Regions from separate parts of the Homo sapiens genome. Here region 2 is linked to region 1. The links come from fine-mapping of genetic effects on gene expression. Tissue or cell type: whole blood. Region 1 holds a variant in brackets; the other region holds the start of a gene. All regions are shown on one strand. Distances are between the middles of the regions.

Region 1 (2,689 bases):
ATCTTTCTGTATGTGCTTTTAAAGTCCTTGTGACATTGAGTTACAGGGCTTTGACTCCTGGATCTATAAAGGACACCAAGTCCTGCTACATCTTAAACACTGACAACAATTAAAGCCTCATCTTCAGGCGCAGTAGAAGATGCCAATCAAAATAAATTGCATTCCTGAGACATAGGGCCAGAAATAAAAGCTATTCAACTCCTCAAGGCCCCAGGACTATTGTGGAAGAGGTGGGTGTGTGAGATTGAAAGGGCCAATTTTGAGAGACAAAATAAGTTCAATTTCTCTGTAAATTAATCATTAATGTCAAAGGCACACTGATGCAAGACAAGAATATGGCCCCCTGTGACAGATTAACAAGGTTTTAGTGAAGCATTAACTGACTCCTTAATAAAGGTTATAAAGGTTATAAAAGGCTTAAGAAAGTTATATCCTATTGTCAAGATTAAAAGTTCATAAATTGTTAATAAAATTTTGAAAAACAGATTTAATTGGTATCACACTGTTTTTATTAGGGCTTATAGTTTGGAAAATTAAGTCTTCTCTCTCAAAGAAAAAAGGTTTTTGCCTTTTTTTGGAATCCTTGTGTTATCACTTTGGTTAAATGAATGACTTATTTTACAATGACCTGTAATATCAAGTGTTTTAAACCATTGATATTTGACAAACTTTCCAAATCAAATTATAAATTATTTCTTTTTCAGACCTAATTAATCCTTTAAGATATTAGGTTCCCTAAAATCTAAAAATGAAATTTGGCTCACTTGGTGTAAAAATTATACAGGAAGTATTGTCAAACATGAAATGGTGTTTGGTTATCTTTGGGCTGTATTTGTATAAATATGTAATTGGCATGTGTTCCAAAATTATGGGAAACTCATATAACTCTGATATAACTTAGTATACATTATCAGTAATAATCATTGTCATGTTAAATTATGGTGTGCCACAGAGGTAACAAATTTCCCTGTCAATTGTGTTTTTGACTATGGCTGCTCTAAAACTTTTTGTCATCCACAGACAATTGTTTCTTGTTTTGCTCCTCTTTAGAAGGTGGTTTATAGAACTATAATACTCTAACAGGTGCTCTTGAATGCAGGTTTCTGATAACTTTGAAGACTGTGACATCAGAATAGAGGAAAAACTTTGAAAACTCATGGAGAGCTGAAATGTTCATGAATATCAAGCAGAGCAGGAATTAGCTGCATGAACTGAACTAATAGAAGACTGAAGTAATCTTTTTGACTTTTTGCTTAAAACATTGCTGATCCTTTGTTCTGTATTTTTCAGAGTCAAGGAAGCTTTTCTTTTGAGCTATTGGCAGCTTTTAACAATTTAGTATACTCCCGTGAACAAAATTTGGAGCTTATTTCTTTCTCTCTACCTGATTTCTCCAGAATTTGGAAACTATTTATTAGTATTCTTAACTTATGGCAATACAGTTATTTGCATAAGTGCAATAAGAATATGTTTTTATTTGAAACAGGACACAATTGGAGAAACTGGTTATTTTACCAAGGCTTTGACTGGCACGCTGTGCTTTCTTTCAGGAATCAAACTTGACTTATGGAGACAATAAAAGCCCCTTGGGAAAACTGGCCTCATACTTTGTCTA[C/T]GCAGTGCCTGTACAGGGTTCCTGATCTGTGGTAAGTAAAAAATGTAACTTTCTGACAGGTCCAGGAGCCCCAAGTTTATCTTGGGATCTCAAGAGGAGAGAAATTCACCCACGCATAGGTGTTTGATGGTACAAATCCATGGCTGGGTTTCACTTCAAAAAAATATTATCTGAGATTCCTTCTGTGGAACAAAGTTCCATCAAAGCCAATTTAAAAGCCTATGTAAAAAAATAATTATTCTTGCTGTACTGTATACAAATAATCAGGCCAAGTATAATAAAGCAAATCAGTCCTACCATGATTTGTCTTTAGTAAAAATGGGAAATTGGAGAGAGAAAAAATTATGTTTCAAAAACTATAGTACACCTGTTGTTAGGTTCTAGTCTTGCTTAATGTTTTTAAATTTTTATTATTTTCTACAGTTTGGTCCGAATTCTAATTTTTCTTGGCTAAAATTCTGGGCATGACTGTTGAAAACAGGAGTGTGCAACTAAAGGAAAGCCAAGAAGCAGGGTGGGGGCAGGAGATGGAGGATCACTAGGACAAAGTGCCCAGGGTAAGGGGCATTCTGACTCAACCAACCTAACAGGATTCCTGTAGAAGGCAGCTCAGGGTGGCCACAAATTCCTTGGGGATGGTGAGGGACAAAGAACCTGGCCAGATATTGAAGCTGAGGGTGATTGATAGACATCAAGGGTGGGGGATTCTGGCTGAATTGAGGTAACAGGATTCTTGCTAAAACTGGGGTCTTGGGACACACCCCAAAATGGGGCCTCACTGAAAAAGGAGCCCAGAGGAGCCTGACTAGGGTTTGGGCAAGAAGAGAGTCCTTGTCACCAGAGAATGTTGTCTAAACACCATCCCATGAAGAAAAGGACAGCGGCCCAGCATTCTCTCTGCTTCCTGGCCCAAGTCCTCATCTTACTTGCGTTGACCTGATGATCTCCATGCTGTCCTCACACCCAGAGCAGAGGTGACAAGACTGTGTGGCCTTGTTTCTCCTTCAGCACAGCTGAGATGAACTAAAATCCACCGAAGGAACTTGAAGTTAGCACAAGTACAGGGACTAAGAA
Region 2 (2,689 bases), 79 kb after region 1:
GGTGTTTTTAGCAATAACTGGTTACCCTGCTGATTATTTCAAAGTCTGTTATGTTATGTTATTTTATTTTATTTTTTTGAGAAGGAGTCTTGCTCTGTCACCCAGGCTGGAGTGCAGTGGTGCAATCTTGGCTCACTGCAAGCTCCGCCTCCCGGGTTCATGCCATTCTCCTGCCTCAGCCTCTTGAGTAGCTGCGATTACAGGTGCCCACCACCACGCCCGGCTAATTTTTTGTATTTTTAGTGGAGACAGGGTTTCACCGTGTTAGCCAGGATGGTCTCGACCTCCTGACCTCATGATCCGCCCACCTCAGCCTCCCAAAGTGCTGGGATTACAGGCATGAGGCACTGCACCCTGCCCAAAGTCAGTTATTTCGAACCATTTAAGGTATTAACCTTGGTCCAGACCTGTTGTCCTCACCTACAGAGGATGAAAGTGTCCAAAGTGAATTATGCAGAAGGCCATTTAGGCTGAGCCTCTTGGCATCTGAATTGGAAGCCATTTTTAATTTTCATTTTTCTCATGGTTGCTGTGTGTGTGTTTATGTTTGCAAAAGCAATTTAGGCCCTGGAATTCCAAGCTGTTCTGTTAAGACCCAGGCTGCTTTGCTATCTCCTATCTTTGTTCAAAACAAACAAACAAAAAACAACAATAAAAAGAAGGAGTCATAAAGGATGTTAGACTGTAGGAGGTGCTTTTAGGATAAGTAAAAGATAAGAAACCCGCTGGAGACCAGGAGGGAGTTAAGCAGGCTGTTCTAAAAAGAGACAATGGCTGGAACAAAGGCAAGAGCATAGAAATGTATCCATGATCTCAGACAAGTTTTTTCTGCAAAACATTCAAGGAAACAAGTCAGAGAAAATGGAGTGTGGCTTGACACAGGAGGGAAATATACTGGGAATAGGGGTGGGTGTTCTTAAGAAATTTCATTACATGCATGGCTGGCACTAGGCCTCAAGCGTTATTCAAGGAATTCTAATAAGCTGTTTTAAAGGGATTAACAATCAAATATAAGTGAGAAAGTTAACTTCAGTTCTGTAGTAGAATTAGTGTTTTGAAATGACCACCCTAATAATAACTTTGCCTCTTGTAAAGGAAGTCTAGTGTACTTATCAAGGACAAATTGGTGTGGTTCATTTTTCAACTAAGGAATCAAGTGTGAACAACACGGAGGAGAAAATCAAAGTCCTCTGGCATTCACAGCATTTCTGAGTGAGTTTTCTGTAAAATACTCCCACAGAGACATAAGAATCAGAGAAAAGGCACTGGACTGATTCCAGTTTCATTTTGAAATCATTGGCAGCTGTCATCTCCATCCCGCCCATCCTGCATTTGGTGCAAATAAAGAACGCAGGAGCCTTGTCTCCTACTGGGCTGTCAGTGAGGAAAAGGAGGAAAGACAGGTTAGCTGGGGATGATGACGGATCTGAAGCAAAGCCATTCAGTGAGGCTGAATGATGGACCCTTCATGCCAGTGCTGGGATTTGGCACTTATGCTCCTGATCATGTAAGTGGACCCCAGGAGGCTGAAGTTTCTTAGGTCAGCTGTACTTGCAGGGCAGTCATCAGGCAAGAGCCCTGCACTTGGGTAGACAGTGGATGCTTGGAAGGGCTCATCTGGGATTTCATTTAACTGTCTCTAACTTGCTCCTCTCAAGGTCACAGAGATCTTTTTTGCTTTAAGTGGCATGGCAAGTTATTGATTGTGGGGATTCTGAGATTGATAATTTTGTGGGTATATTATCTTTATTTCTATTAAAAGTATCAATGTTACCTAATATATCAAATGCTTTCCATGTATTTTAGGTGTTTTACATGCATTATCTTATTTAATTCCTTAACAACTGGCCTAGGTAAGTACTCATTAAAATTTGTTACGTTTTAAAAATGCAAGCTCAGACTGTTCTCATCTTTTGCTCTGGTCAGAGCCACTCTACTCTTGGTTAGAAATGTGAAGGGCCAAGGACCCAGGAGGAATCAAAAGCCAAAATGAATACTTAGTGGCAGCTTTGCTGTGAGGTTATTGGGGCTGGAAGTATTTGCCAGAGAGTTTCAACCATCCAAACTTTTTGCTATATAAGAAGCCACTGCGATTCTGTTACAGTCTCATCAATGTATTAAAAATATAGTAGTCTTTCATTTTGAGGGATTATCTGAAGTTTTTTGTCTTATGACTGAGAAAATTAAGGACTGTGGACACAAAGGGTAAGGTTGGAGTGAAAGTTTAATAAGTGAAAGAAGGAAGATTTTCTCGAGTAGAGAGGGGGCCTGGATGGATTGTTAACTATGAGGTCAGGTCTAGGGTTTTGATGGACTGGGAAAGAAAAGAATTTGTTGACTGGTCTTGGAGAAAGTGTAACTCAGCTTGTCCTGGGACCTTGGTCTGGGACCAATCAGGAGTTGAAGTGATAGCTTGGCCTGGGACCTTGGCCCAGGAGCAGTCAGATGCTGAATGATAATTCATAAAGGCTCATCTCACGGTCCACATGTCCACAAAAGGAAAGGAAAGTGCCCACCAGAGCCCACTGGAGCCCACCATATACATGCCCACAAAAGAAAAAGAGACTTTCCTAGAAGTCTGTTGGTTACACAAAAGACAAATGTGTTTCTCTGTTGGTTCTTGTTCTCATATGAGTGCAGTTGTTGCCATGTCTTAGGCATAAAGGACAAAGGCATTTTGATGTTGGGC

The links. PIP is the estimated chance that this variant, and not a neighbour inherited with it, causes the effect.
Region 2: it holds the start of AKR1C8, and the variant in region 1 is fine-mapped to the expression of AKR1C8 in whole blood (TOPMed, PIP above 0.99). The same link has a PIP of 0.9 or more in blood mononuclear cells and lung.

Annotation. Positions count from the first base shown.
Region 1 is chr10:5,262,967-5,265,655 of GRCh38, reverse strand. No RefSeq gene overlaps it. Among named protein-coding and RNA genes, the nearest start is that of LINC02561, 6.9 kb to the left of the region's middle. The variant C/T (reference allele first, on the strand shown) is at 1,616.
Region 2 is chr10:5,183,830-5,186,518 of GRCh38, reverse strand. It overlaps AKR1C8 (aldo-keto reductase family 1 member C8), which reads left to right and starts at 1,369. Exons shown (of 9, transcript NM_001395972.1): 1 at 1,369-1,507. The coding sequence starts at 1,415.